4 linked regions of the Homo sapiens genome follow. The protein of the gene in region 1 interacts with the protein of each later gene in a pairwise test. Each region holds a gene or a part of one and is shown in the gene's direction. Other genes may lie near its edges. The genes, in order: ZCCHC10, KPNA3, ZBTB14 and MEOX1.

What was found.
Region 2: the proteins of ZCCHC10 (region 1) and KPNA3 interact in binary tests that used the Homo sapiens proteins (3 or more experiments, as listed by UniProt).
Region 3: the proteins of ZCCHC10 (region 1) and ZBTB14 interact in binary tests that used the Homo sapiens proteins (3 or more experiments, as listed by UniProt).
Region 4: the proteins of ZCCHC10 (region 1) and MEOX1 interact in binary tests that used the Homo sapiens proteins (3 or more experiments, as listed by UniProt).

Annotation. Positions count from the first base shown.
Region 1 is NC_000005.10:132,995,384-133,003,984, reverse strand, and holds the end of ZCCHC10 (zinc finger CCHC domain-containing protein 10), read left to right. Parts: intron 1-619; exon of another isoform or gene 620-888; intron 889-3,565; exon of another isoform or gene 3,566-3,589; intron 3,590-3,783; coding exon of another isoform or gene 3,784-3,811; coding exon 3,812-3,853; intron 3,854-5,134; coding exon 5,135-5,402; 3' UTR 5,403-7,000; downstream 7,001-8,601.
Region 2 is NC_000013.11:49,781,445-49,790,980, reverse strand, and holds part of KPNA3 (importin subunit alpha-4), read left to right. Parts: intron 1-9,536. UniProt on the Homo sapiens protein: Functions in nuclear protein import as an adapter protein for nuclear receptor KPNB1. Binds specifically and directly to substrates containing either a simple or bipartite NLS motif.
Region 3 is NC_000018.10:5,286,883-5,293,623, reverse strand, and holds the end of ZBTB14 (zinc finger and BTB domain-containing protein 14), read left to right. Parts: intron 1-296; 5' UTR 297-377; coding exon 378-380; intron 381-1,419; coding exon 1,420-2,766; 3' UTR 2,767-4,602; downstream 4,603-6,741. UniProt on the Homo sapiens protein: Transcriptional activator of the dopamine transporter (DAT), binding it's promoter at the consensus sequence 5'-CCTGCACAGTTCACGGA-3'. Binds to 5'-d(GCC)(n)-3' trinucleotide repeats in promoter regions and acts as a repressor of the FMR1 gene.
Region 4 is NC_000017.11:43,638,238-43,645,807, reverse strand, and holds the end of MEOX1 (homeobox protein MOX-1), read left to right. Parts: intron 1-2,147; coding exon 2,148-2,320; coding exon of another isoform or gene 2,321-2,331; intron 2,332-3,775; coding exon 3,776-3,898; 3' UTR 3,899-5,419; downstream 5,420-7,570. UniProt on the Homo sapiens protein: Mesodermal transcription factor that plays a key role in somitogenesis and is specifically required for sclerotome development. Required for maintenance of the sclerotome polarity and formation of the cranio-cervical joints.

The DNA of each region.
Region 1 (8,601 bases):
TAATTCCAGCACTATGGGAGGCCGAGGTGGGTGGATCACTCGAGGTCAGGAGTTCGAGACCATCCTGGCCAACATGGCAAAACCCTGTCTCTACTAAAAATACAAAAATTAGCTAGGTGCGGTGGTGCACCCTGTAATCGCAGCTACTTGGGAAGCTGAGGCAGGAGGATCACTTGAACCCAGGAGGCAGAAGTTGCAGGGAGCTGAAATCACACCACTGCACTCCAGCCTGGGTGATACAGTGAGACTGTATCTCGCCAAAAATATATATATATACACATTACCAATAAGTTTGTTTTAATGTAATAGTTATTAAAATTTATACTATCAGCCAAATGCTGTGGCTCATGCCTGTAATCCCAGCACTTTGGGAGGCCAAGACAAGAGGATCACTTGGGGCCAGAAGTCTAAGAACAGCCTAGGCAACATAGCAAGATGCTGGGTTTTTTGGGTTTTTTTTCAACTTTCAGTTATTTATTAATCAGTGTAATCTCCAGTAGATTACCTCAACATGATTTCATGCATTTAGAGGAGAAATATTTCCTGTTAAGTGGAAAATTGTGCGGATGGCTTCTGGAAGACCTTCATTCTAAAGGAGCTTTATAGTAAAACATTTCATTTAGAAATCTGAACCTTCTTTCTTCAATTTGCTGTAATCCACATTCACTGAGTAGAACTTGTATTGATCATTGGGACCCAGTTTGTTCAGGGCTCTGGGTTAGTCTTTCTGTCCCAACAAACATCTGGATTGAACAATGTCAGAGGCGAGAGAAACAGTGCTGCTCCAATACCTCCAGTTCCAATAAATACAAAAAGGGGGATCAACTTCGCATGCTTCTTGGCCTGACCCATGATCTGGCGGAGAATGTTTGCAGCAGAAGCCTCCAACTGGAAAGGAGACAACCAGCCTAGCCACCAGGCCCTGGGCTAAGTAGTATCTGCCAAGACCCTGTTTCTTAAAAAAAGGCCGGGCGTGGTGGCTCACACCTGTAATCCCAACACTTTGGGAGGCCGAAGTGGGTGGATCGCCTGAGGTCAAGAGTTCGAGACCAGCCTGACCAACATGGTGAAACGCCATCTCTACTAAAAGTACAAAAATTAGCCAGGCATGGTGGCGGGCACCTGTAATCCCAGCTACTCAGGAGGCTGAGACAGGAAAATTGCTTGAACCCAGGAGGCAGAGGTTGAAGTAAGCCAAGATCATGCAACAGCACTCCCACCTGGGCGACAGAACGAGCCTCCACCTCAAAAAAAAGAAAAAGTATCAGCTGTTAAAAATGTTCATATGTTCTTATGTGAATAATAGGTATTAAATTATTGTAGAACTTTTTATAATATGTATATAATATGCCCTTTGCAAATATTAAAACTTAGAATTGCAAGTATGAGTTTTCCAGAAATTATTTTATTAGGAATGTAAGCAAAAAAATGTTTGAAGACCCCTGTCCTAAAGAATGAAATACGGGTTATGAAAATTTTCATTCTAGTTTAGGCGCACACCTATAATCCTAGCACTTTGGGAAGCTAAGGTGGGAGGATCACTTGAGGACAGGAGTTTGAGACCAGCCTGGGCAACATAGCAAGTCTCACCTCTACAAAAAATAAATACATAAATAAAATTTTATTTTGACATTTACTTTTGTTTTTCTAATTGTATCTCACAAGTATTTTGGTCTAAAAATATATATAATTACATGAATCTGGCTCTGTTAAAAAAGATTGCTGGCCAGGAACCTTGGCTCACACCTGCAATCCCAGCATTTTGGGAGGCTGAGGCGGGTGGATCACAAGATCAGGAGATCGAGACCATCCTGGCTAACATGGTGAAACCCTGTCTCTACTAAAAATACAAAAAAATTAGCCAGACATAGTGGCGGGCACCTGTAGTCCCAGCTACTCGGGAGGCTGAGGCAGGAAATGGCATGAACCCGGGAGGTGGAGCTTGCAGTGAGCCGAGATCCAGCACTGCACTCCTGCCTGGGCGACAGAGGGAGACTCCATCTCAAAAAAAAAAAAAAAAAAAAAAAAAAAGATTGCTGAATTTTGATTCAGTTATAATTTAATAAGTATACTTCACCCTCTTATTTTATGCCCAAAATGACAATTCAGTAAGTAATTCCATTGTGTAAAAAACTTTACATAAATACATGTTTATGTTTGGAGACTCAGGAAACAATGATGGAAGCATTATCTAGGAAATATAGAGAAGGCCAGGATATAAAAACATTGGCCATGTGTGGTGGCTCACACTTGTAATCCCAACACTTTGGGAAGCTGAGGTGAGCAGATTGCTTGAGCTTAGGAGTTCAGGACCAGGCTGGGCAACATGGTCAAACCCCGTCTCTACAAAAAATACAAAAGTTAGGCATGGTGGTGCGTGTTGTAGTCCCAGCTACTCCAGAGGTTGAGGTGGGAGGATTGCTTGAGGCTGGGAGGCAGAGGTTGCGGTAAGCCAAGATCATGCCACTGCACTCCAGCCTGGGTAACAGTGAGACCCTATCTCAAAAAGAAAAAAAAAAGTTAAATTTACAGGACAGTGGTGATAGAATTAATTGTTTTTTTCTTGTTGTTGTTGTTGTTGTTGTTTTTATTTTGAGACAGAGTCTTGCTCTGTCGCCCAAACTGGAGTGCAATGGTGCGATCTCAGCTCACTGCAACCTCTGCCTCCCAGGTTCAAGAGATTCTCCTGCCTCAGTCTCCTGGGTAGCTGGGAGTACAGGCATGCACCACCAAGCCTGGCTAATTTTTGTGTTTTTTTTAGTAGAGACAGGGTTTCACCATGTTGGCCAGGCTGGTCTCGAACTCCTGACCTCAAATGATCTGCCTGCCTCGGCCTCCCAAACTGCTGGGATTACAGGTGTGAGCCACCGCACCTGGCCTAATTGTGTAATTTAAAAACCTGATTTAGTATGCATGTTGTTTGACAGAATAATAGCAGCAAGCTATTTGTCCCTTTCATTCAAATTTACCAGACTTTATAACTAATGTGAGTGAGCATAGTTTTGAAGTATTACATTTCTGGTCTTTAAAGAGTAAATAACTCGGCCAGGCAGGGTGGCTCACACCTGTAATCCCCAGGACTTTGGGAGGCCAAGGTGGGCGGATCATGAGGTCAGGAGTTTGAGACCAGCCTGGCCAGTATGATAAAACCCTGTCTCTACTAAAAATGTAAAAATTAGCCGGGCTTGGTGACACACACCTGTAGTCCCAGCTACTCAGGAGGCTGAGGCAGAAGAATTCCTTGAACCCAGGAGGCGGAGGTTGCAGTGAGCCAAGATCGCGCCACTGCACCAGCCTGGACAGCAGAACAAGACTTTGTCTCAAAAAAAAAAAAAAAAAAGTAAATAACGGGACATGCAGAAAAAGAAATAGTTATTTTAAATTAAAGGGCTGCTTTTGAAAAATTATGAAATGGCTATTTGTATGATTCTGAGAACTCAAACTACAAATTAGGGCTATTGTGCTATTAGCTTTGTTCTGTTGTTCAGGAGGTAGTGATACAGCTATATCAGCCTAAGTTCCAGACTAAAAAAATTTAATCATCTTAACTACTAACCTACCTGACTTTTATACACGTGCTAAGATGCATTGTCTTGCTTAAATGCTGGTTAAGTTGACTGCATGTACCGTATACAGCCTACAATGGCAGACTTTCCACTTGCTTATAATAAGAAATACTGTACTCTGTATGTGATAAAAACACAGAATCTTTCTCCAGAGTAAAATGATTTGGGGGATAGTAGAAGGGCTTGTCTGAGCTGTGTATAATCACTCTATTAACAGGAGCTTTTTTCCCCCTCGTGTTTATCAGCATTGGAGAAACCAATGTAGAAAGAAAGGCCAAGAAAAAAAGGTATGTGTGGTTTTAGCAGTGTTTTATAGATAACATGTAATACTAATTGGCGGGATGGGAAAGGTGATTTTAAAACAATAGCTATGCCAGATGCAGTGGCTCATGCCTATAATCCCAGCACTTTGGGAGGCCAAGGTGGGTGGATCACCTGAGGTCAGGAGTTGGAGACCAGCCTGTCCAACATGGTGAAACCGTGTCTCTACTAAAAATAGAAAAATTAGCTGGGTGTGGTGGCACATGCCTGTAATCCCAGCTACTTGAGAGGCTGAGGCAGGAGAATTGCTTGAACCTGGGAGGCAGAGGTTGCCATGAGCCAAGATCATGCCATTACACTCCAGCCTGGGCAACAGAGCGAAACTCTGTCTCAAAAAAAAATAGCTATAAGATTTGGATCTGAAGCCTCTTACTGCAATTTATAATTAAATAATCATCCTATTTTCTGATAAGTTCCTTTTTTTAACCTGTCTGGAAATGCATTGCTTCCATTTCTCCTTTTACTCCAACTTTCTAGAGTCCTTGTACGTGGAAACAATAAATAATTGTCTTCTCTTGGCTTAGAATAGGAAGTGTTAATAGACTGGTAAGAAATTGTTGGCCAGCCATATCTGGTCTGAAGTAGTTAAAATAAAGATGATGAAACAGTCACCAGCTAAGCTACGTGAGGTTTAAATAGACCCAATTGTTATACTGCAGCTTTATTCTGACATTATTCCCTCTGAAATGTAATATAGTAGATATGCTTATCTTGAATTCCATCCAAGAGAATTAAGTTGCTGAAGTAACAATGCCTTGTAAAGAGAGGGACTGTGGTTTACAACAGGCAATCTCCAAAATATCAAACCTAAGGATAACATGCTAGCAAAGCTTCAATATATAAGCATATATATGGAATCATATGAAATCGCTTTTGGCTGGGCGCGGTGGCTCACGCCTGTAATCCTAGCACTTTGGGAGGCTGAGGCGGGCAGATCATGAGGTCAGGAGTTCGAGACCAGCCTGGCCAACATGGTGAACATGATGAAACCCCGTCTCTACTAAAAATACAAAAATCATCTGGGCGTCGGTGTGCGCACCTGTAATCCTGGCTACTTGGAAGGCTGAGGCAAGAGAATTTCTTGAACCTGGGAGGCAGAGGTTGCAGTGAGCTGAGATTGTGCCACTGCACTCCACACTGGGCAACAGAGCAAGACTCTGTCTCGAAAAGAAAAAAAAAATGAAATTGCTTTTAACATTCTATTACATGTCACCTTCCCATGTATATAACTCTGTATTGTCTAATAGGTCTAAGAGTGTAACCAGTTCCAGTAGCAGTAGCAGTGACAGTTCTGCCAGTGATTCTTCATCAGAGAGTGAAGAAACATCTACCTCTTCCTCCTCAGAGGACAGTGACACTGATGAAAGCTCCTCTAGTTCCTCATCCTCAGCCTCCTCCACAACCTCTTCCTCCTCCTCTGATTCAGACTCAGATTCCAGCTCTTCCAGTAGCAGTAGCACCAGCACAGATAGCAGCTCTGACGATGAACCACCAAAGAAGAAGAAAAAGAAATAGAGTTGCTCCATTCATATTGGACTGATGGACTGAAAACATTGATGTGATTCTTGAAAGGGAATTTAGAATATGTTAAGGCCAAGTAGGTTAACTGGTGAACATTTCTAGAATTCAAAAGTTTCTAAATGTTTTACATTGTAAGAGCATAGAGAATATTAATAATGGCTTATAGAGAGAGACTTTTATTTGAAGGGTGAATCTTGTTTTTTTTATCTTTAAAATATATCTCTAGAACTTAAAGCTGAAATCTGCAAATCTGTTTGTGTGATGAAACTATCTTTTCTCTCTGTGAAATAAATGCCATACTTTGTTATATATGTTAGTGGTATGTATCAGACATATTTTCAGGATGGTGCGTCAGGATATCTGGCAGTGGATTTCTAATGCTTTTGGCTGTATGTTATGTAAGATTTAATATGTTGTTACTGTAAGCTTAGGAGTTTTCCTACTATTAATAAATGTGCTCTATTTTTACATTTATGTTCAGAAAGTTATCTGACTTTTTGTCCTAAGTGGTATGTTCAAGGAGCCTATTAATATATTTATAGTTTTTGAATGCTGTAAGTTTCAAATTGCTGTGTTACGTCATTCATTTTCTTCTGGTTCCTTAAGTTTTTCAAGTTATCCTTTTCTGAGGAAAATTATTCTAGAGGAACCTAAAAAGGGACAAAAAAATTGAAACTTCTTAGGAGTCTAATCTTGGTGCCTTCTGTTAAAAGTCAGTGTATCAGAAAAGAAAGCAGCCATGTAAGAGGCTAACTTAAATAGAAGTGCTAGAAATATCTTTGTGTATTAACATGCAATAAAAGGTACCATTCAAAGCAGGGGGAAAGGTAGGAAGAAGAGGTAATTTTTACTGAAAATTAGGGCAATGTTGGTCGCCTTTTATTAAAAGCTTTTTTTAAGCTTTCATAAAGATTGCTTTTTGCTATTTTTGAAAATATGGTATTATAGTTTGTATGGTAACTGGTCATATATGACAGTCTACTGCATATATATGAATGACTAGGATTAATCTGGTGTGTTTACATAGGATATACATAGTTGAAATCTAGCATGAAAGGTTAAAAAGGAGATACTGCACAATATTTCTTAAAAGTAAAATGCTGTTATTGTGATGAGTCTTTGGTTTAACATCACAGTATTCTGTGATGTCTTTTTAACTTTTTGGAAAGAGGTATCATTTGTAGAAAAAATTTGATTTGGGTTAAATATAGGTTTTTAAAACTATAAATGTTGTCTTTTTTATATTTTTATGAAAAAGCAGTAGAAAATTACTTTTGAAGAAAACAGGCTATTTAAATATTGAAATATATGTATGTTGTGAGTTTAAGGAGCCTGTAATTGTCAGTTTTACAAAACCATCTGTGTTCAATGGTTGTAAATAAATTCTCAAAACATCATTTCAAAGGCTGCCTACAGAATATTATCACTTGACAGATAGAGTTAATAAATTACCAATCAGGCACATTTTATAATGTTTGTCTCTGTAAAGGTAATATTAGCAGTTAAAGAACACGGATGAGAAAAGAATGTGTTACATAGGTTGCATCACTTGCAGTTAAATAAAACTCACAATTTGTGCTCACAAGCTTAAACTTCTGTTATCTCTTTAGTGTTTTATTTAATGTCAGTTATTCCATTTGAGGTGTAAAGACATTTGAACAAATTCCAATTTTAAAGTTTTACTATTATGGCTGTTAAAAGTATGACTGCAGAGGTACAGAGAGCAGGAACTCAGTTCTTCTAGTCACACATTTCATTCAAAATGACAGAATCAGGCTGGTCACAGTGGCTCATGCCTGTAATCCCAACATTTTGGGAAGCCAAGACGGGAGAATCACTTGAGTCCAGGAATATGAGACCAGCCTAGACAACATAGTAAGACTCTGTCTCTACAAAAAATTAAAAAATTAGCTGGGCATGGTGATGTGCCCCTATAGTCCCAGCTACTCAGGAGGCTGTGGCAAGAGAATAGATTGAGCCCAGGAGGTTGAGGCTGCACTGAGCCATGAGTGTGCCACTGCACTACAGCCTGGGTGACAGAGTGAGAAAAAACAAAAAACAGAATCAATGGCAAAGTGGAGACTAACTTCTAGAGAGTTTTATTTTTAGTCCTGCCTAAAGGCAGGACTCTGGAAGTTGAGTCCCTGGCAAATGTAGTGAGTATGTTACTTAACCACATTCATATCAAAAGGAGTCGTTAGATCATAGGTTTTCATTCCACACACATTTTGTTTATATTAATAGACTTTATATAGCAATTTTACCCTAGAATGAAAATACAGCATTAGCCATAAGTTAACGCTGGAAGTGGAAAAAGTGCAGAGAGGGTGTTTCATATTCTTAGCCATATTTATTCTTTTTAAATTTTGAACTGTAGATTTATAGAAAAGTTGCAAAAATAGTACAATTTCCTTATAAACCTCATCTAGCTTCCCATAGTGTTAACGTCTTACATAACCATGTCACAATTGCCAGAACCAAGAAATTTAACATCTAGTAAAATACTATTTTTTAAAGACATCCTATTATAGCATAGTAAAATACTATTAAACTGAAAACCTTATTCATATTTTGCTCATTTTCCCACTAATATCCTTTTTATATTCCAGAATACTACCCAGAAATACTTTTAGTTCTACCTTTACTACAGTCTCAATACTTCAGTGTTACCTTGTCTTTCATGCCCTTGTCACTTTTGAAGAATTATCTTGTCTAATACCCCTCAATCTGGGTTTGTTTGGTCGGGCGTGGTGACTCCCGCGTGTAATCCCAGCACTTTGGGAGGCCGAGGTGGCTGGATCATTTGAGGTCAGTGGTTCAAGATCAGCCTGACCGACATGGTAAAACCCCCTCTCTACTAAAAATACAAAAAAATTAGCCAGGCGTGGTGGCGCACGCCTGTACTCCCAGCTACTCAGGAGGCTGAGGCAGGAGAATCGCTTGAACCTGGGAGGTGGAGGTTGCAGTGAGCCGAGATTGTGCCATTGCACTCCTTCATGGGTGACAGACTGTCTAAAAAAAAATTTGGATTTGTCTGATATTTTCTTGTGATTGAACTGAGGTTATGCTTTTTGGAAGAATATTACGGAAATGGAATGTCCTCAATCATATCATGAGATTCATAATGTTCATGTGTCTTATTTATTACTGGCAATGTTGACCTTGATCACTTGATTAAGGTGGTTCCAGGCTG
Region 2 (9,536 bases), on another chromosome or scaffold:
TGGAACTGCCTCCTGTTATTGGTCCACTTGATGACAAGTGTTAATTTTGAACTTTTCCCATTAGGAATTTTTCTTGAAGCCTATCCTGTTCCAAATAAAAATTTATTGAAAAATACTCATTGTTTGTACAGAAAAACCAGTAACATTCTTCTCTCGGATATTGGTACAGGTTTTTGTTTCATTGTTTACCTCTATTGTGTTCTGGTAGCTCAGTGATACTTAGTAAGGACTCCTGCACATAATAGGTACACAACAAATATTTGCTGATAAGAATGTAACCCGTGACTTTTAGATGCATGAAAAAGAGCATGGTTGCTAAGCCATTCAGCCTGGTATTGGTCACAACATTACATTTCTCGGGATTCTATAGTGTAACTAAAACATGAAATAGACATTCAAATGGTAGTTCTAATGTGGCAGACACTGTTACGAGCTTCATGATACCTTATTTAATCTGTGTAACAAGTATATGAAGTGTGGCATTATCCCCACTTTACATGAGTAAAGTATTTTTTGAGACGGAGTCTTGCTCCTTTACCCAAGTTGGAGTGCTCAGGCACTCATAGCTCAGCTGCAAGCTCAAACTTCTAGGTTCAAGGAATCTTCCCACCATGGCCTCCCAAGTAGCTGGGACTACAGGCGGACACCACCACACCTGGCTAATTTTTTAATCTTTTTTAGAGACGGGGTCTCGCTTTGTTGCCCAAGCTTGTCTTGAACTCCTGGGCTCCAGTGATTCTCCCGCCTCGGCCTTCCAAAGTGTTCGAACTACAGATGCTAGTCGTCACACCCAGCTGGAACTTTAGATAAAAAACCTCAGTGTGCTTATGTAGCCTGTGCATGTCACTCAGTGGATATGGGTATTATTTATTCACTAATTGTCTATTGGGTATCTATCAATGTTAGGTCTTGGGGATAAGGAATAAGATGCAGTCTGTACTTCAGGGAGTTTACAGTCCAGTGGGGGTGATAATTACAATGCAGAACAACAATTGTTACAGTATAGTATTCCGAAAATGCATGCCAAAAAAACTACTTGGAGGTGAGCAGAAAGGGAAGATACTCTGGTTGATTTCTAATGGATGAATGGGAGTGAGCTGATTGTGAAGGATGAAAGAAAGGTGGCCAGGCAAAGGGCGGGAGAAGGCTGGTGGAAGAAAGGGGCATTCCAGACTAGAGGGAGCAGTAATTGAAGAGTCCTGAGAGAAATGTAGGAGAGAGAGAGACTAAAGGGTAAACTGGGGTCAAATCTGATGAAGGGCCTTTATTGGGGATTTAGGCATATCTAAGAGTAGATAACCATGCTTAGTCTTGTCCATTAGAAACAGTACAACTTAGCTCTGTAACTGAGTAGTTGTGGTTATCAGGCTGTTCCAAAACAGTGAGATGCACTTTGATAAGCTATGATGCCTATTTTTTCACATATAGGATAGACAAAAACTAAAACATGTTATAAATTATAGAAGCAGCTGATACACAAGATGTTAGGTGCAAGAATAAGATCCATACTTGTTAAAGAAAATAAAAGGATAGAGTTATGCCAGGGGATTTGAGTAGAGAGAGGGTTGAGGAAGAAAATTTCTTTGTCATTCAATCGAGAGAGACTTTAAGAGATCTTTGGAGAGGAAAAAAAAAATGAGGTTAGTGAATCTTATAGGAAATATGTACCAAACTTAAAAGGGGCATGTTAACTGGTGAATAAATATCCAGGTAAAAAAGAAGAGTGATTATATTAAAGAGAGGAGACTTCCAGGTGGCCTGTGTTGATGCAAGAATATCTTGTGGCAAAGAGTTGCTTGGAAGCTTTTTCTTAATAGGGAGATGTGAAGGAATTTATTCCAGAGCAAAGAGGAGATGTAACATGATTAGAGCAATGGAAAGGGTGACAGGGCAGTAATACCTAGAATTCATTTTGGAGAAATAGCGCTGTTGTCTGATCTGCAAAGAAGAGTTTTCCAAAAAATTGAGACTGGGAATGGCTACAACCTGGAATGAGGATTTGATGATGCTGTTCTTCCTCCCTCTTCCTCCTCCTTCAAATTCTCTTTATAAAGATCACTGAAGAGAAAGGGAGTAAAGGTTATTCTGAGGTTTATAAATGGAGGAAGGGAGGGAGTAATTATCATCACTGATAGAAATTTGGAGCTTGGGTAGGGGATGCATTTTGTAGCAAAAACTAGGAAGTACATATTGAAAGGGAAACATTTCCTTTTATTTGTTCTGGAATGTGCTTTTTTTTTTTAAAAAAAAAAAAAAAAAAAAAGAGGGTCTGGCTCTGTCGCCAAGGGTGGAGTGCAGTGGCCCAATCTCGGCTCACTATAACCTTCGCCTCCTCCCAGGCTCAAGCCGTCCTTCCATCTCAGCCTCTTGAGTAGCTGGGACTACAGGCACATGCCACCACACCTGGCTAATTTTTGTGTTTTTTGTAGAGACGGGGTTTTGCCATGTTGCCCAGGCTGGTTTCAAACTGCTAGCTCAAGTTATCCTCCTGCCTTGGCCTCTAAAAGTGTTGGGATTAGGGGCATGAGTCACCATGCCCGGTCCTGGAATGTGCATTTTAATGCTAGACCTTTTCATGTAAGGCATTGATTCTTAAAAACTTTTCCTGTTTTCAAAGATAACTTATAGAAAAGTGTGCAAAACAGAAATGTTCTGTTTAATGAATAATTACAAAACAAATGCTCAGGTAACTGCAATCCAGGTCAACTCATTTTCTTGCTGCTGTATACCTCAAGGGTGTGACATTTTCATTAGTAACAGTAATTAATTATTTTAAAAACCTTAACATTTATTGTTTACAGTATATCAGTGCTAAGTACTTTATATAGATTATCTATTTAATCTTCACAACAGTCCTATATCAAGTAAGTACTATTATTATCCCCATTTACTGCTGAGGCAACTTGAGGCCTACAACCCTTAAGTAAGTGGCCTTAAGTCTTCCATCGGGTGTTAAGTGGCAAAGCCTGGACTTACAATATATCAAAGCTTTATGCTAAGCGGCTGGGCGCAATGGCTAACGCCTGTAATCCCAGCACTTTGGGAGGCCGAGGCAGGTGGATCACCCGAGGTCAGGAGTTCGAGACCAGCCTGGCCAACATGGTGAAACCCCGTCTCTACTAAAAATACAAAAATTAGCCGGGCATGGTGGCGCGTGCCTGTAGTCCCAGCTACACGGGAGGCTGAGGCAGGAGAATGGCGTGAACCCGGGAGGCGGAGCTTGCAGTGAGTCAAGATCGCACCACTGCACTCCAGCCTGGGCGACAGAGCGAAACTCCGTCTCAAAAAAAAAAAAAAAATACAAAAATTAGCCGGTCCTGGTGGCTCATGCCTGTAATCCCAGCTACAAGGGAGGCTGAGGCGAGAGAATCACTTGAACCGGGGAGGCAGAGGTTACAATGAGCTGTGGTCATGCCACTGCACTCAAGTCTGGGCGACAGAGTGAAACTCTGTCTCAAAAACAAACAAATAAAGCTTGATGCTAAAGCTAGAACTCTTGCTTACTGTGCTGTACTCCACCGAAGGGAGTCTAAGACTTGACATGTACAAACCACGCCTGAAAGTTAGTGAATGGGGAAAATATTGAAGAAATATCGACTATATCACAGAAATTGCTATTTCTATACTTTAAAACCTTGCAAATTTTTGATGAACTTTACTATTAGATTTATTTGCCTTTTTATCTTTTTACTCTTGCAAAGTTTCCTTCTTATCAGCAAGGAGCCAGTTGGTTGGTTTTACCAAAAAATGATAATCCGTATCTTTGGGCTTAACACTTAAGCTTTATGCTTTAGTTTCTGATACCAGGGCTAATATATATTTTCTCACCTGCAAAATTCAGTTAGCTCTACCAGACTTGCTTCTGTCTCTGGAACCTCCAGTGCTAAGTGGCACTATCTGATTGTCCAAGTTTAAGATTCTATCCTTGACTCCCTTCTCTTCCCCTCCTTCACCCTTCTTTGTATTAGTTATCTGAAGAACCCTCATGTTTGTACCTGTTACCAACCTTACTTCCTCTGCCCCTAGTTTAGACCCTTATCTTTGTTGCCTGAACAAGTATAATAGTGTACCTAGCTCTTCTGTGTTCAGTATCTTCTCTCCCCAGTGTATCTTGTGGATTGATCTTTCTCATATCTTTCTGTGTTACTTTCCTGTTTATGATCCTTCCCATTGACTTCAGGATAAAAGTCCTTAGCATGCCACACATAGTTGTAAGACCTTACCTTTTTTACCTCACCTTGCACTTTTCCTTATATCTCCTTTGTGCCAGCTGTGATAAAGTACTGGAGATGCTTGAGTAACCAGTAGTTTCTTCTTCATGCCTTTGTATATGCTGTTCTGTGTGCCTTCTTTTGACTATCTGTTGAGTTGGGGTTCACTCTGGCAACCTATCTCTTCAGTGAGACTCCTTCATATATCTCTGGAACACCAAGATTACAATTCTGCCACACCATGTCATTCTAGTTAAAAACCAAAAACAAAAAAAAACTTTAAAAGTTCTCCATGAGCCTTTCCTGACTTACAGTATACTTGGTACTATCAGTCCCTATTCTTTTCCTCCTCTCTAGTGTTTTCCTAGGTGAATTTTCCTTCACCTATTTGGGATAAATTGCTGTGATGTACAACAAATTCTGTGTTTGTATAGCTATTAAAGTATTTGGGCTCTGTTGAGAAGCTCAGTGAGAATAGATACCTTGGATGTAACTTGAAACATGAAACTTAATGAGAAGAGAGACTAGATGATATACCTGAAAAAAGTCTACATTTGGGAATGAAAGGTTCAGTATTATTCTAAGACATTAATTTTCTTTTGGTGTTGACTCCATGGCATTGATACTGTTGCCTAGCCCTCCTTGAACAGCCTGTTCTCCTATAATGTATTTCTGTAACATGAACTCGCTCATACTTGAATGGTTAATAAAAAAATGTTAAGGCAAAGTTCATATTGGTTCATATGTGATTTTTAGTATCACATTAATGTTTAGCACTCTTAAATAACAACAGTTGAACATAAAGTACAGAAACAGTTGAACGGATCAAGCCCAGGAGTATGCATATTGGCCATGCACCCATGTTCTGCCTCTTGGCTCTGTTTAACCATATGCAGTGTCTAAAGGTGCTTAACGACCATCCATCCTGTGCATTTCCCTCTTCTTCCTAAGTTTGGAGAGTGTAAAGTGTTTCAGGAATCTATATGCCATATAGCAAACAAACTTTTTTTTTTTCATGAATTCACTAATGGGGCATATACTGCTTCCTGGTTCTCTTGGAGTACTCTTTTTCAGTCAGCTTTGGTAAGTCTTCTTCCTACCCTTTGAATGTAGTAGGCATGGCTTGGGATTCTGTCTACGATTCTTTTATCTGTAGACTGTTTTTCTTGCTCATATCAGCAACTCCCTTGGCTTTAATCATCATTTCAATGTGCGGGGACTTAAATTTCATAAAATCATCTGCTGGAAATTATTCACATGAGCATCTTTTTAGCTTCTCAAGCTCAAAGTGTTTAAAGCCATGTTCTGCCTTTGTTTTTTCTTTTTTCTGTTTATGGCATCATCACCCTCACTGTGACCTGAATTTGAAACTTGAGAGGCTTCTTGGACTTCTCCTCTTCCACATTCAGTCAGATGCCAGTTATGTAGCTCGAATCTCTGTGCTGTCTCTGGATTTTGGCCCTGCCTCTATATTCTGCTGCCTCCAGCCTACTTTAGGCCTTATTACCTGTCACCTTCCTGTTTAAAAACTATCTCCAAAGTGGTTTTCTTCCTTTAGTTTATGAGATTTTTCAGTGAGCCTGATGCCTGATTATTTCTCCAGATTCAGCCTTCCTCCCCCACCCCCTTAAGCCCTAGCAACACTGAACTTCTTATATGCTTATACATAATCTGGAATCCCGCCTGCCCCTCCTCGCCAGTGCTATTTCTATTCTCAGGGCCATCTTGCTGACTGGAATATCCTTCTCTGCCTCCTGTTGCCTGGCTAATTCCTACCACTTTTAAATACTCAACTCTGGGTAGGTACCATTCTTTGCTCCTGGAAGAAGTCTGAGTGTATCTTTCTCGTTGCAATTATGATAATGTATTTTAATTAGATTTTATTTTTCCTACTAGATTGTGAGCTTTTTGAGGGCACAGACTATGTATCTTCATTGCCTACCACTTAGTACAGTGGCTAGAACCAAGCAAGCACTAAAATATTCCTTGAATAAATACATCGTAGGCACCGCAGACACAATAATTTTTCCCATGTGTATTTTTGAACTGAAATGTTTACTCTTTTAGTGCCTTTTCCTACTGCTTCCCAAATCAACTCCAAGCTTTTTATTATGACAGGTAAAGTTCTGGGAGATTAAGGTATATACATAGTGAATGAATTAGTGATTAAGGCTAATTTGTATGGCTAAGTAACATTCTATTGTATGTATATACCACATTTTGTTTACCCATTCATCTATAGATGAATACTTGGATTGTTTCCAACTTTAGTCTGTTGTCTCCCAACCATTTAAAAATGCCACTAATTTGTTCGGGTCAGTTTTCTTTTATTAAATTGCACTATATGAAATTGCTTTTTTCCAGGTTTGTAACAACAGCCAAGTATTGGCAATTTCATATTTAGCCTAATAGACTGTCCTAATTACTGGGTTTGTCTGTTTCCTTCTGGTGGTGCTTAACTGGTTCCTCTTATTTGTTTTTTTACCACCCTTCAGATTTTTTGTAATCTGGAAGTTTTTTTAAAAAAAAATTTTTAAACATTATTTTTGAGACAGAATCTTGCTGTTACCTGGGCTGGAGTGCAGTGACACGATCATGGCTCAAGCGATCCTCCTGCCTCAGCGTCTTGAGTAGCTAGGACTACAGGTGCACACTACCATGTCCAGCTTATTTACTTTTTGTAGCGATGGGGTCTTGCTGTGTTGCCCAGGCTGGTCTTGAACTCCTGTCCTCAAGCAGTCCTCCCTCCTCAATCTCCCAAAATGCTGGGATTATAGCCATGAGCCACTGAGCCCAGTCTAAACTGGAAGTTTGATTTAAAGTCTTGATTAGCTTCAAGTTAAGCTTCTATTAATTTATTTAAACTTCAGTTGGTGGTAGTGTGTACCTTAGAATATATCTCAGTAATGATAATAAGAATGATCGTAGGGTTCAGGTGATAAAGAACAAATAGTTTAATGCCATCAATGTGAAAGTTACTTAACAGTTTGTGAAGTGAATTTTAGTTATTTGGGGGAAATGGGACATGAAATTGATGACATTTCAAGAAGTGGAAAAAAAAGTAACTTCTTGGTATCCAGTAAAGGAGTTACAAAGTGTATATCTAGAACTTCTAACTTCAGAGTCAGTAGGATTTTCTTTCTATGACTGACACCACTCCTCAGTTGACCTTTTGTTTAGTTAGCATACGGTTTGGCTGTACAGCTGGCCCTTTGTAACCTGTGGATTCGTAGGGCTGACTGTACTGTGCCATTTTATAGAAGAGATTTGAGCATCTGCAGATTTTAGTATCTTCGGGGGAGGGAGCATCTGGAGCCAACCCCCCCGAGGATACAGAGGGAGGACTGTATTCTCATTTTCAAGTGGAGGTGAAGGAATATTAAAAGTATAAGGAGGATGTAGCTATCCTTTCTTGCAGTTTTGCTGTTAAGAAAAATTTTCTTACAGCATAGCCAACATCAGCAGTTAAAATATGGTAAAATAAATCATGACTATATTTACTTGGAATTAATCATTCTTGGTTTTCTGGGTTAGGGAGGTTGTATACATACTAGATTTTACTTTATTTTGACACTTGCCTTAAATAGAATATAATTTAGTTGTTTTCTTGGTTCTTGAGAATCACCATTATGCATATGGATATTGGGTTTTGCTTTTACATAAGTGATGCCTTCAGGTTGTTAAATTAACAGAATTTTCTTCTTGATTTTTACGCTTGTGGAGTTTTTGCTCTTCTTAATTTTTTTGGCTTGTCCTTCCCTTGCTTTTGGTCTATCAGCTTTCTTTTGATACTGTCAGCATATTTACTTGTGGTAGCCCCTATGTTTCTTTTTATTTGATGCTTTACATATTCTAGTGACTTGGGAAACAGATTTATTAAACATTTATTTAGCTTTTTTTTTTTCTTTGAGACAGGGTCTTGCTCTGTCACCCAGGCTGGAGTACAGTGGCACAATCACGGCTCACTGCATCCTTAACTTCCCAGGCTCGAGTGATCCTCTCAAGTAGCTGGACAGGTGCACGCCACCACGCCCAGCTAATTTTTTTATTTTTTGTAGAGACAGGGTTTCGCCGTGTTGTCCAAGCTGGTCTCAAACTCTTAGGCTCAAGTGATTCACCTACCTCAGCCTCCCAAAGTGCTGGGATTACAGGCATGAGCCACCGCGCGCAGCCTATTTAGTATTTTCTACATGCTATGTAGACATCATTAGGTGCCAAAGATTATAAATATGAAAATATTCCCTGATCTAAGGAAGTTCAGTTTAGTGGGAGAGACTGATACTTAAGCATATGGCTAGTGTACAGTGTGGTAAGTTCTATGATACAGGTAGATAATTTGTAAAGTACTATAAGAGTATAGAAAAAGTGTGATTGTACCTGGGGAAATTAGTAAGGTTACACAGAAGGTCATACTTGAGGTAGGTCTTGAAGGATGAGTTTGCCAACTCAGAAAGAAAAATAGTATGAATAACAGTGACTGTGTCATGGAGTCTAAAGGCTTGGCATGTTTAAGCTGCAGCTGATATGAGGGGCATTGTATCCATTCCCCCTGCTTTTGGAAACAACCTTCTGATTTGGCCTTTGGAAGCTACTTTTCTGCCATTGGCTATCTTATGGTGGGATTTTTAATGTAGGTGCTCCTGCCTCTGATTAATTAATGTGCCTCACATTTTTCTGGCTAACACAAATTAGGCTAATTTGTCCCTGGCATTTAAATCTTGAGTGAGCTGATACTGAGACCTAATTGATTCATCTTGACAGAAGTACTGTGAAGGTAACCATCCGTTAATTCCTGCCGGCTAGATATGTGGGAGTTGCTTTCGTAGGCTTGATTCTTCAGCTTTGTCTTGGTTTTGTGAATTACTCTATACATTCTACCAATAAATTCACTCTTCCCTTTATTTCTTCTTAAATTTACCCAAGTCAGTTGCTGTTGTTTGCAACATAACTCTAAGGTGATCAACTGTCTTGGTTTGCCTGGAACTGAGGTAGTTCCCAGTATACAGGACTTTCAGTGTTCAAACAGAGAAAGTCCTGGACAAACCTTAACAAGTTGATTGCTCTAATTGAAACAGTTTGGGCATAAAAATAATGAGTTCTCGGGATCCAAGTGTTGTTCAGATGAAAATATTCAGTATGCAGCTGAAAACAGTGCAGAACTAGCTTGCTTCAGTTATGTCACTCAGCAGCTATTCGAATTCTTTACTGAGTGTGAGGGATAAAACAATGAAAATAATGATAACCAGTAATTGTTGAGCACTTAACTATGTGTAAGGCACTGTGTTTATAAGAATAACCTTAAATAATCCTCACAAAGTTTACATT
Region 3 (6,741 bases), on another chromosome or scaffold:
AAATATGGACATGAGCTTAGTGTGTGAGGAGAAATCCCTTAATGGTTCTCCAACCCCTCCTTCCAGTTCCTAGGGCACAGCCCCTTTATGCCCGAGTGCTACAGCCCTTATCTGTTCTAGTCCATATCTGTTCAGAACTGCACTTGATGTACCAGCTACCTACCTGCCACTCTCCCCAACCTGAAAATGCACAAAAGAGGGAACAAGAAAGTTTATTTTTAAAAAATCAATTCTTGGTTTAGGATTTGGGATACAGGAAGATCCTACCTCATTCTTGTTTATCCTTTCCTCTGTAGGTCTGGCGTGCTCCTGATCAGAGTTACTCTGATCTGAAGATTTTGGCGTTCAAGGCATTAAGATAATAGCCTGAGTTGTTCATGGTAACTATAACTTTGGATATTAAATCTTGATGAAAATGACTTGGCATTTGCTTTAAAATATATATACCAATTCTGATTGTGCATGAACACTTCTATTTGTCTGGGGGAAAATATTAGCCGAATAAAAGTAAAACAATGTTTTTAAAAAGGAAACATAGAGAATGCTTTAAGATGACCAGTTTTTTAACATGATGACAGAGATCTTTCATGCCAGTTCCAAATTTTTGCTTATAAAATACTCTCAGCACTTATCAAGTACTTACATCTGGTGTTGATGGCACTTTTATCTGGATGCAGGTAGATTGGCATCTAGAGAGAACAAAGCCACTTCCCAAATGTCATCTCATTCTCTTAAGGTCAGATTAAACCTTGACCTTCATTTAGAAGTGGCCCAAAAGTGCTGTGGAAAATCTAGAACACAACACTCAATGGGATATTTTGGCAGTAATGTTCCTCTCTAGTTCTGCAATAGTAATTTGTTCCTTCTGTCAAGGAGGTATAACATAATTATTTTGCTGAATCCTCCATAGAGTAGATGGAATAAGAGTAGGTGCAACAGAGAGGACTAGAGGATTGTTCCCTTGAACCTGTTTCTTAAAACTTGAGTTTGAGTTATTTGATTATCTCTAGTCAGGAAGCACTGGTTTTGCAGCCAGATTGTCTGCATTTAAGTCCCAGCTCTTCACTAAATAGCTATAGAATATTGGGCAGATTTCTAACTTTGTCTCTAAAATAAGGATAGTGATACGTACTCATGAGGTTACCTGAATATTAAATTAATTAAAACATGTAAAGCACATAGAACAATGCCTGGGATATAACTAGGCAAATACTTAGTAAATTGAAGATGAACAGGAGTAACAATATGGAGATCCTTGAGTTGGGATCAGTCTTTTCTACCCATATTCAAAGACCACTCTTAACATTGACTTTCTGAAATTGTTAGGTTCCATAGATTGACCAGGAAATGAAAATGTGACTGTGTTCTCTATATGGAAAAGTACTATTTATAATTACTAAACTTTTTTTTTTTTTGTAGGAGTTTTTCATCAGTATGTCTGAAACCATTAAATATAATGACGATGATCATAAAACTCTGTTTCTGAAAACACTAAATGAACAACGCCTGGAAGGAGAATTTTGTGATATTGCTATTGTGGTTGAGGATGTGAAATTCAGAGCACACAGATGTGTTCTTGCTGCCTGCAGCACTTACTTTAAAAAGCTTTTCAAGAAGCTTGAGGTTGATAGTTCTTCGGTCATAGAAATAGATTTTCTTCGTTCTGATATATTTGAAGAGGTCCTGAACTACATGTACACAGCAAAGATTTCCGTGAAAAAAGAAGATGTTAACTTAATGATGTCATCGGGTCAGATTCTTGGTATCCGATTTTTGGATAAACTGTGTTCTCAGAAGCGTGATGTGTCCAGTCCCGATGAAAACAATGGTCAGTCCAAAAGTAAGTATTGCCTTAAAATAAATCGCCCCATTGGAGATGCTGCTGACACCCAGGATGATGATGTAGAGGAAATCGGGGATCAGGATGACAGTCCTTCTGATGACACAGTAGAAGGCACACCCCCGAGTCAGGAGGACGGCAAGTCGCCCACCACAACGCTCAGGGTTCAGGAAGCGATCCTGAAAGAGCTGGGGAGTGAGGAAGTTCGGAAGGTCAATTGCTACGGCCAGGAAGTAGAATCCATGGAGACCCCAGAATCAAAAGACTTGGGGTCCCAGACCCCTCAAGCCTTAACATTTAATGATGGGATGAGTGAAGTGAAAGATGAACAGACACCAGGCTGGACAACAGCCGCCAGTGACATGAAGTTTGAGTATTTGCTTTATGGTCACCATCGGGAGCAGATTGCCTGCCAGGCGTGTGGGAAGACGTTTTCTGATGAAGGCAGATTGAGGAAGCATGAGAAACTCCACACGGCGGACAGGCCATTTGTTTGTGAAATGTGCACAAAAGGTTTCACCACACAGGCCCACCTGAAAGAACACCTAAAAATCCACACAGGATATAAGCCCTATAGCTGTGAGGTGTGTGGAAAATCATTTATCCGTGCCCCAGACTTAAAGAAGCATGAGAGAGTTCACAGTAATGAAAGACCGTTTGCGTGCCACATGTGTGACAAAGCCTTCAAACACAAGTCTCACCTCAAGGATCATGAAAGAAGACACAGAGGGGAAAAGCCTTTTGTGTGTGGCTCCTGCACCAAGGCATTTGCCAAGGCATCTGATCTGAAAAGGCACGAGAACAATATGCACAGTGAAAGGAAGCAGGTTACCCCCAGTGCCATCCAGAGCGAGACAGAACAGTTGCAGGCGGCAGCGATGGCTGCGGAAGCAGAACAGCAGCTGGAGACGATAGCCTGTAGCTAGAGGCGGTGGGACAGGGACACTTTGCCTGGAAAGTGGAGACTGAGATGACGTGGATCATAATGAGTGAATGCCAGTTACAATATTTTTGTGGAAACGTATGGAACATTGTACTCACTGGACTTAAGGCAGTGCTTGGTTAGCTATTTTTAAGACTTTTCAAGGAAATGGTGTTCCTCAGTTCTGACCAAACCGTTTCACTGTCTTGTCTGGTGTCTAGTATTAATGTTGCCCAGTAAGCACCTCTCTCCCTTTTTTTTTTTTATTATTTTAATTTGAGAACTCCTGTGTCCAGTTTAGAAGTGAGAGACTTCCATTTTTAGTTCCTTTACACTCACCACCCTAGCAAGTGCCCTGCACAGAGTAATAAGTAAATTGATTTCCTAATCACAATTCTATGTGACTTATGGTCAAAAGAGCAGTTTTAATAACTTTAAAAGTACTTCAGATAGACGCAGAAAATTGGTGAGTGGTTGACCAAGAACACTGCACAAATATAAAAAAAGTTCTGGAAATGCAGAATGGCGTTAGATTTATATTTGGTTTGTTAATTTTATATCACTGTTTTTCACTGTTTTTGTGGACAAATAATGGTTGCTTTGCTGAAGTGTTCTTCCTCAATCTTGATTGCCCTGTACCTACCCAAAAGCTGTAGTCACACATCCTAAAGGCCAAGCAAACCCACCGGGATGGTGGGGGGTCTTGGAGCCAAGCTCTTAGGTTCCTCTTATTTGGGGCAGTACCAGTCCATACCAGCTGCGATTTGTGAGTGGACCTGTGGTAAGAAGAATAGAAAAGGCTCTCAGAGATAAGGTTTTTTACATGTGTAACAATCCCAAGATTTCCTAGATTAAAATCTTAATTGATTTTGAAATTGGATTTTTATTTAGAATCAAAATTAGGACAAGAACAGATAACTTCTTCAGATACATTTGTGTAACTTTACAGAATGTCATCAAGCTTTGGGGCTCTGTGGGGCACATGATTTATCCATAAAGGAGATGCAGTATGCTTACTTAAATTAATAAATTTAAAATCTTTTAAGTGTGTAAATAGTAGTGTTGGTCTTACGTATTTCAAGTAAAAAGTAGACAGCTGCACTTTTTTTGCACATTGGATTAAAATAACTTCCATCAGCAACAAACATCAGACTGTTTTTAACAAATATTAAAGATTGTCAGACCAAATGTTTATGTTTTCGAAATATATTTCATCACTGGTTACAGTTTTAAATAGAAGTTGATTGCCTTTTCATAGCCGTAAATGAGAATTATAAACTCTATTCCAGTTTTGGTATACTAAATGTTCTTTTAACCATCTTTAGGAATATATTGAAATGCCAACAATAGTTTGAATTGTGTTCTGTAAAAAAGTATTAGTCAATTATTTTTCAAAATGTAGAATTGTAGAAAATGTCAATTTTTCAAACTCATTTTTCATTGCTAGGATTTCTTTTAAAAAAATTAAAGTAATTTCACTTCATAGCTTGTTGCATTAACACCTGTAATTCTATTGTGAAAGAAATTTGATTTTTTAATTGGTGTGTGTTATGCCCAAGATGTTAGGATGAAGATGCTACCTTTTTAAAAATTTTAGTTATTGGTAAAATGTTTAATTTTACTTAAAATTAATTTCTTTTCTTGAAAGTTGTTTATTCTGTTCTAAAAGTAGTCCTGTCACTGTGTTTTTATGCTACTTATAGAAGGGGAACTGATTGCCGTTCCTAGGCTGTTTTAACCAAAGCAAAGGAAAAATAATTTTAACATCTTGTCAATAGCTACTTCAACAAACCATATTTTGGGACTTCATTTTTTGTATATAAAAGAAAATATACTTCTATCATTCCTCTTTTCATTTTTTCATAGCAACCTTCCACATACCTAGATTTCTACCAAAATGTATTTTGTATGCTAGCTTCATCCTGGCTTTACAGAGTTGAAGTTAAACATGTGATATTAACCTCCTTTGAAACCACATAGTCATGGTGGTAACCCCCAAAAAGAAAGGTTAATTTTCAGCAGTCTATGTGATGCAAATATTTATCATTTAGCCTATTTTGCATGAGAAATGTATTTGTGTTATTTCTGCCACTGGTACTGGGTTTACACGTGTGTTAGGGCACCTGTTTCCTTTATATATTTTTGGTGGCAGCAGAATCCTATCATGGCAGCTCTCCTGTCTGCTGGGTCCTGGTCAGTAACACTGCCTCTCTACACCTGGCTGGATTTGGTAGTCCTCTGCATAGTGGAGCCATCGTGTTAGAGTCTTCAAGTTACCTCCAACACCCTAGGGAGTTAATTCTGAAATGTGGTTACTCTGAATCTGTAATGTAAGAGGAAGGTCAAGGCTAAGTGTCAACATTACTACCTTTTCATTACTTACAAATCATTGACTTTTTTCTGTTTTTACAGAGAATGCTACAAACTTGATGTTAGCTTTTGTGCTTAATTTGCATTGTATTGGCACTGATTGAGGAAGAGAAATTTAGGAAGTTTAAATGTAAAGTAATTTGCCGGCCATTAACTTGATCACTAATTTAGAATTGTTAGAAAATACAGAGGTCGCCATCAAGTGAGGTTGACACTAACAAATTCACCCTATTTTGTTAGGAAAAAAAAGACAAGATGAGGGAAAATGATGCAAATTTATGTAGTTTCCAACTTAATGGGTTATTTTGTGTAGTTATCTGTAAGTCATTTGGAAGGTGGGATTCATTGTCACATAGTAATGCTATTAGTGGTGTTTTGTTCTCAGGATTAGCAAGCCTTAGGGTGCAATTGTAGTAGAGCTGGCACATAGTAAGGATTGTGGTGCAGGGTTGAGTCCTAGGCGGAGGCAGAGAACTGTTACAGCAAAGAGAACGGAAAGCTCTCACTCCCTTTGAAGTCTGTCTCCATTTTTGCTTACCCTCTTGTAACTGGAGCTCTTTCCCCCTGGGAACTATTTATAATAGGGTTAATCCTGCATCTACTTAAGGTATGTAAAGATAGCATGTTGCCTACTTGTGTTGAGCATCATATGCGAGGCACTGGGCTGGACCCTGGAGATGCAAAGGCAGAAGCAGTTTGGTCCCTGGCTGTTAGAGTGAGTGTGCCCCTTCCCAGTCTGGTCTTACATGTTCTTTTTGAAAATGTTTTTCCATCACCTGTTATCCATGATTCCTTAAAGGTTGCCATACTGATCTCATCTTAGGGGCCCTGGGTGTAATTTATCTGGATTGTGACAGATTTTAGCAGTTGGGTGTTTTCATGATCTCTTCAAAAGATGTTCCCACCTACCAATACTCATTTAAATCTTTTCAGTATAACGAGGAGGTGAGGTTTAGTGGAAAGACTTTACAAGACAAACTTAGATTTGGATCCTGGTTTTGCCTCTCAGTAACTGCAAATTCAGACAAGTTCTTAACTGCCTTCAGCCTGAGTTTCACCATCTCTAAAATACTGGTATTTCTGCCTCACAGCCTGCTGAGGATTAATGTGATGGCCAGGAAAAAACATTAACCCCAGCATCGACACTTTTTAGGTTCACTGTAAATGTTCCCCGCTTCCTAAAGAGCATTCCCAATGGAGTAGACAGAAGCTGAGAAGCATCTCTCAGTTCTACAATCATTGGCCCTCAGCTGTAGACCTAGACCTCATTAAGTGTTATTAACTGAAAATGTCTACACTGTGTTTGTCTTAGTATTTCTGTAAGCTTCGGTCCATTTGTGGCTCTGGTCTTACAAACTTGTATATTTGTCTAAATGTTGTCTTTGATTTTGTAATTTCCCATCGTGTACATTTTAAAGTAAATCATTGGAATGTAGTCGGTGTAAACACTGGCCTCTCTGGATGGCTCCCTTCTCTTCTTTGGGAACATCTGTGATGGCAGAACCAGAATGGCAGAACCAGAATTGCAATTTTGAGAGCTGGCTTTTGAATCTCATACATGAAATCATACATTAAGATATTTTTGCAGTATGCTTTTCTAAAATTGGGT
Region 4 (7,570 bases), on another chromosome or scaffold:
GGGTGCTGGGAGGGGAACCAGCTAGGCTCAAAGCTCCAAAGTGGATCGCCGGGTTAATGTGGGGTTCCTGCCTCGCCACCCACTCCCAATGCGGCTGCTTAGCCGACTGCATAGGCGGCTTCTCTGCTTTACACTAGGGGGTCTGAATTCCCCAGCCCAGTCCCCCAGGTAGCTTAGACCCGGCCTCTGAAAACAGAAGATCCCTCCTTCCAACACTCCTCGCCGGCAAGGCAGAGATGGGTCTTTCAGGGAGCAGGACGTTGGGCCGCAGGTTTCGGTAAAGCACCTCACTCGGAGCCACAGCCTCCATGTCTATAAAATGAGGAAAATGGACCGGGCGCAGTGGCTCACGCCTGTAATCCCAGCACTTTGGGAGGCCAAGGCGGGCAGATCACGAGGTCAGGAGATCGAGATCATCCTGGCTATCACAGTGAAACGTCGTCTCTACTAAAAATACAAAAAAATTTGCCGGGCGTGGTGGCGGGCGCCTGTAGTCCCAGCTACTCGGGAGGCGGAGGCAGGAGAATGGTGTGAACCCGGGAGGCGGAGCTTGCAGTGAGCCGAGATCGCACCACTGCACTCTAGCCTTGGCGACAGAGCGAGACTCCATCTCAAAAAAAAAAAAAAAAAAAAAAAGATAATTAATGAAGCAAACGTCTTTTAAATGTTAGAGCCCCGGGCTCCTGCAGCCATTCCCTGGCCACGTGGCATGCATTGCGAGTTAATTGTGTAAGTGTGTGGTCTTCTTCCCACCTCCTCTCCACCCACCACCTCCATTCATTAAAGTGAAGGTAGAGCTGCCTCCCACCCGTCTGCTCAAGAGATAACCATTCAGCCCCTTTTATTTGTTCAGGACTTTACCGTTTGTAAGCCCTTCCTAAATTTTTTTTTCAAGACGTAGTCTTGCTCTGTCGCCCAGGCTGGAGTGCAATGGCGTGATCTCCGCTCACTGTAGCCTCCGCCTCCTGGGTTCAAGCGATTCTCCTGCCTCAGCCTCCCAAGTAGTTGGGATTACAGGGGCGTGCCACCGCGCCCAGCTAATTTTTTGTATTTTTAGTAGAGACGGGGGTTTCGCCATGTTGGCCAGGCTGGTCTCGAGCTCCTGACCTCGTGATCCGCCCGCCTTGGCCTCCCAAAGTGCTGGGATGAGCCACCGCGCCTGGCCCCTACATACTTTTCATTTGAACAGTATGTGTGTGTCAAATCGCCTGAATTTAATTCTTGTCTCCCACACCCCCTGGCTGAATAAACTTGGGCAATTTGCTTAACTTCTCTGTGTTCGTTTTCTGGTCCATAAAGTGATACTAATACTAGAACCACTTGGTTGGGCTATTGAGGAATAAGAGGCTAATATATGTCAGGTACAGCACCTGGCACAGAGTGTGTCCCCTGACCCTGTTGGCAGTTATGACTGAGCCCCGCTGAATCTAACATGCAGCCTGCTTCAGAGGGCTCCAGATGGCTTTCCAGACTTGGCCCTCTGGGGCAGATTCTGATTCCGTAGGTAGGTCTGGGGCAGGCCTGAGATCCTTCAGGTCTGAACAGCTCCCTGGTGCTACTGATGCTGCTGGCACCCAGGCACTCCTTTGAGTGGTGAGGTCTTAGAGCAGCGGACTTGACTGTGCACCAGACGCATCTGGAGGGTTTGTAAAAATAGATTGCTGAGTGCCATCCCCAGAGTTTCTGACTTAGTAGGTCTGGAATGAGGCTAGGATTTGCATTTGTAACAAGCTCTCAGGTAATGCTGATGCTGCTGATCTGGGGACCATAGTTTGAGGCTTTGTTTTAGAGCATCTCACCCCTCAAGCTTATGGCCACCAGTAATGTCATGCTGGGGGGTGGGCTGGGGAGTAGAGGTCATTAAACAGCCAAGAGTAGCTTCTTATGCTTTGGGAATAAAAGAAAGTTTGGGGTGGGGGGAGGGTGGGAGGCAGGTACCTGAGATTGGAAACCAAAAATAAAAAATCTTCCCAATTCTAATATGGGTAAGACACCAGAAGGAATAAAAAGGACAGTGTAGCTTTTTTCTCAGCATCCTGTAAAAATAAGGGAGACTGGTAAAGACTGCCTAGTTGCTCAAGGGCAAAAGAAAGGGAATGGAGTCTCCCTCAGCCCATGTCTTCCTGTTTGGGGTCCTCTCTCCCCAGACAACCAGGAGAACAGAGGGAAGCCGGAGGGCAGCAGCAAAGCCCGCAAGGAGAGGACGGCCTTCACCAAGGAGCAGCTGCGAGAGCTGGAGGCAGAGTTTGCCCATCATAACTACCTGACTCGGCTCCGCAGATATGAGATTGCGGTAAACCTGGACCTCTCTGAGCGCCAGGTGCGCCCCCGGTGGGCCCCTCCTCTTCTTTGCTCTCTCATCTCCCTCCCTTCCCTCCTTTCCCACCACCCCTCCCTGGACCTTCTCCTTTTTCTTCCTCCAGCCAGTCCAGCGGTTTTCAACTGTGGCCACACCTGAGAATAGCCTGGGGAGTTTTGGGTTTTTTTGTTTTTTGTTTTTTGAGACGGAGTCTCGTTCTGTCGCCCAGGCTGGAGTGCAGTGGCGCGATCTTACTGTAACCTCCACCTCCTGGGTTCAAGCAATTCTCCTGCCTTAGCCTCCCAAGTAGCTGGGCTACTGGCGTGCGCCACCACGCCCGGCTAATTTTTGTTTTTTTTTTTAGTAGAGGCGGGGTTTCACCATGTTGGCCAGGATGGTCTCAAACTCCTGACCTCAGGTGATCCGCCCGCCTCGGCCTCCCAAAGTGCTGGGATTACAGGCGTGAGCCACTGCGCCCGGCCCCTGGGGAGATTTTAATAGTGCTGATGTCTGGGCTCCACCCCTAGGGATGATTTTAATTGGCCTAGGATGGGATACAGGCCTCAGAATTTTTCAAAGGCCCCCTAGGTGATTCTCACATGCAGCTAGGTTGGGACCTACGGTCTGGCTATTCCCAAATTTGAGTATATGTTGGAATCCCCCAAGGCACTTGTTCAAAATGTGGATTCTGGAGGTCCGGAGAGAGATTTTACCATAATGAGTGGGCCTGAGAATCTGTATTTCTAGTACATTCTCCAGGTGATCTGGATATGCAGCTGGTTCCTGGGCACACTTTGAGAAAAACTTCCCTGGCCCTTTGTTTTGGACTTTCCCTTCAGCCACCCCACACCCCCACACCCATGCTCTGATACGGAATAATAGTAATAATAACCGTAATATTTGATAGCAGATTTCAGTTGACAGAGCACTCTGCCAGAGGGCTGGATATTGAATCAGAAGACTTAGATTCAAATCCTGCCTCTATCACTTTTCCTAGCCCTGGGACCTCTGGGTCTCCATCTGTAAAATGGGATCATAATCCTGCAGGTAATACTCAAGCTCAGATGAGAAAATGTGCTTACCAGAGCTATCTAAACCAAAAAGTGCTCTATAAATGTGCCTAAGGATAAGGCTGATGACCTCTGCTCCCAGACCCTTGGGGAATGGAGGTAGGGGGCAGGGGGACCTGGCACAGGCAGGGCAGGGCATGTGAAGGGGGTGGGGCCAATGCAGAGTGCTTTTAGAACATGTTCCCCCGTCTGGGGCTTTATCCGAAGCCACAAGACAGACCTCTGGGCAGATTGGTATGTCCTCTCTTCGGTCCTAGTTCCTGGGGCCTTTGAGGGAGTAGGGAGTGGTAAGTGATGGTTTCAAGCTGGGGTCCCTGGAGTTACACCCTGGCTAGCCTAAGCATTGACATGGGGAGGAGGTCACACCGGCCCTGGAGTGACCAGGCTCCTTTGCTTCCTCCCCCAGGTCAAAGTGTGGTTCCAGAACCGAAGGATGAAGTGGAAGCGTGTGAAGGGAGGTCAGCCCATCTCCCCCAATGGGCAGGACCCTGAGGATGGGGACTCCACAGCCTCTCCAAGTTCAGAGTGAGATTCTGCATGGAGGAAAAATGACTAAGGACTGAGCCCCCTACCCAACTACCCCCACCCCAATCCCACCTTCACCCTCTTCCTTCCCCAGCCAGGGCAGCCTCTCCACATCTTTCCCTGACTCTTGGATATGAAACTGCCCAGCATTCCTGGGAGTCTTAGGATTTTCTAGGAAGTTCTGTCCAGCCTCTTAGCAGCCTCTTCCCTAGGGCCTTTGCTCCCACACTCTCATGGAATCAGACAGAGATCCTACCGGGCCGGATGAATCTGGAAACAGCTTCAGAGATACTGCTTCTCAGCGTCTCTTGGCTGCCACCCATGCCTCCTCCTACCGCTGTTCTCCTAGGTCAGCCAGGCCTCCTCCTGGTCTGGACACCACCTGGCCTGGTGGGAGAGGAGCTTTGGAACCAGCTGGCGACTCGGAAAGTAAATGCTTCAAAAGGAAGGAAATGACAGAGACACACGCCCTTGCCCACCTTCCTCTGTAGGCTGCACATCTGAGGCTTTGGGGCCCCTTAGTTGTCCCGAAACCCCAAGAAAAATCAGAATGAGGAGAGTCAAGGACAGCAACTCAGCTGCTGCAAGCCAGAAACACATCCCTGTCTCCAAATTTGTTGGCTAAGTGGAGACACTTCTGAGAACTGACTAGAGAAGACAGAAAAATAGCCCGATGTAGGTTTCGGTGTCCCCATATAGGCCCGTCCACACAGGCTTGACTGGGTGGACAAGAATGAACCCATGACAGCACCTGCTGCTTCAAAATCAAAATCAATTTAGGGATACAGCAGGGGCTGTTGGGCTGTGCTCCAGAGAAAAGGAGCAGCTACTCCTTTTAAATCCACGATTTCTGGATTGAAAACCTGTCCAGATGCTGAGTTGTTGGGCTGAACAACTAGGAGCTGAAAACAACGTAGAGGCTGGAAAGTGTCCCCTGCATTCTGGAGGGGAGGGGAGATAATAAGGAGGGCTGCTGGGTGAGGGCCTGGAGATGTGGAACCCTGGAGTGGAAGGTTCTCCAGTGACAGTGTCCTGTGACTGCAAAAGGGGACAAGAAAATCCCTCTTCCTCCATGGGATGGATTTAAGCTCTTGCTGTGTGTTCTACAAATGCTGTTATTGTGGGAGGAAATGCTAGGTTTTTGTGTGTGGACTGCCCAGACCTCAGCCAGGTCTTCTGGAGATGACATTTGAGGACTGATGGCCAAAGAGCATGGGGGACTGAAGCCCTGGCTGCCTCAGCGCTCTGTCTCCCAACACCAGCTGGTGTTGCAGAGGGAGGTCAACGTGAGTTTGGATCTCTTGTACGCAGATGTAATCATTCACATGTAAAAATAACCCCACCTCCCCACCCCAAAAAGGGCAAGAGCTGTGGAAAATGATTGCCAAATGAGATGGCTGGTTAGAGCATGATTTTTTCTAAAGCATACTTCATATATTTTCTTAAGATTACATCAAGCTAATTGTGCGAGCTCAATTCACTTTGTAAGAAAACTCTCGGAGAAATAAAATCAATAAAAAGCAAAGTTCCCAGGCCTTTTTCTTTGCAGAGCGAACAACCACAGCTCTTGTGTGCAACCTTCTGATTGACCAGACAATGTCTAGAAGCAAGAGAAAAAGGGAAGAAATGATCTAGACAGAGCTGTCCCCCTTTAGTTTTTCAAAAGGTGGGTACAAAATATAATTGGTGCCAAAAAAAAATTTTTCTCCAATGCAAATGCATGGTCTTCATTTCTCATTGTAAAAGTTTAGCTTTCAGTTTCCCTAAACTATGACCTATCAAATAGTCAATGTTTTATAAACAAAAGATGAACTCTTTTGTTAATAAAGGAATCTTGACCACAAAGTAACCATCCCTAATGTTTAAATTCAAAGTTTGGAGATTTTATTTTTCAAGGTAGAAAAATGTATATTAATAGTAGTAAAAAATGACATAAGAAAAAATATCCCATATTTTGTCTTTTTTTTTTTTTTTTTTTTGAGACAGAGTTTCGCTCTTGTTGCCCAGGCTGGAGAGCAATGTCTTGGCTCACTGCAACCTCCACCTCTTGGGTTCTCCTGCCTCAGCCTCCTGAGTAGCTGGGATTACGGCCATGTGCCACCACGCCCAGCTAATTTTTGTATTTTTAGTAGAGATGGGGTTTCTCCATGTTGGCCAGGCTGGTCTCCAGCTCCTGACCTCAGGTGATCCACCCGCTTTGGCCTCCCAAAGAGCTGAGGTTACAGGCCTGAGCCACCACGCCTGGCCTCTATGTCTTTTTAACTAAAAAACAATTTGTCTCACCAAGATGTCAACAATGGACAAAACAGGACTGGCTACGGTGAGGGGAGAGAGGGAGGCAGGAGGGGAGACCTGGCCAGGATCTTGCAATGAGGCAGCCTGGGCCAGGTGTGGGCAGTGCCTGGAAGTGACATCACCAGGACCTGGAATCAGGCAGACCCACCAAAATGAAGGTGCCAAATGGAAGTGGGTTCAGTGGCTCAGGTTCAGGTTCACAGCCAAGCAACATGGACACGCTCAGTCACCCCCGTCCACCCTCCTGCTGGAAACTCAACTCTGTGGCTTCAGGGGACATCACCCTCTTCTGGCTTTCCTCATCTGTCCTAGATGTTCCTTCTCTGTCCCCCATGCAAGCCCCTTTCTCGATGCTTCTGCTCTCACAGCTGGTTCTCAAGGTTTTCTCTTTCTTCCGCCACCTTCCCTATTTTTCAATCTCTCCCCAGATGATCCCATCCACCTACTTTTTTTGTTTGTTTGTTTTTTGGGACAGTCTCGCTCTGTCGCCCAGGCTGGAGTGCAGTGGCGTGATCTTGGCTCACCACAAACTCTGCCTCCCGGGTTCAAGCGATTCTCCTGCCTCAGCCTCCTGAGTAGCTGGGATATGGCTAATTTTTGTATTTTTAGTAGAGATGGGGTTTCACCATGTTGGCCAGGTTGGTCTCAAACTCCTGACCTCAGGTGATCCTCCCGCCTCAGCCTCCCAAAGCGCTGGGATTACAGGCATGAGCCACCACGCCCGGCCTATGTTTTTTTAAATTGTTGTAAAATACTCTAACATAAAATAAAAGTTATCATTTTAACCGTTTTGAAGTGCACGGTCCCGTGGCATTAAACATTTTCTCATTGTTGTGCAGCCATTGCCACTATCCATCTCCAGAACGTTTTCATCTTCCCAAACTGAGACCCTTTGCCTATGGAACACTAACCCCTATCCCCTCCCCTTCATTCACCTGCATTTACATAGTGTTTGCGCCATATTGAGCACTGTTCCGCTTTACATGTACAAACTAAGTGAATTCTCTTAGCCATCCTAAGAGGTAGTACTACCGTCATTCCCATTTCACACATGAGGTAACCAAGGCGGAGAGAAGCTGAGTAAACTCCCAAGGTTTTATGGTGGTTAGTGTTTGGGGTGGATTGTATTATTGGGCCTGGTTATCTTCTTCCCTCTCCACTGGGGAACATGCCTCCCTGATCATTGCCATATGATGCACCTGCCGCGGTAAGGGCACACTTCCTCACCTAATTGACATCAGCTTGTCCTTGTGGCCTGCTTTGGCCAATAGAATGTGAGCAGAAGGATATGTGCTGTATCCAAGCAGAAGCTTTACGGGTCATCACACGGCTGTACTCCTGCTCTTTTCCCTCTGTACGAGGCTGAAATGGAGGATCCCTA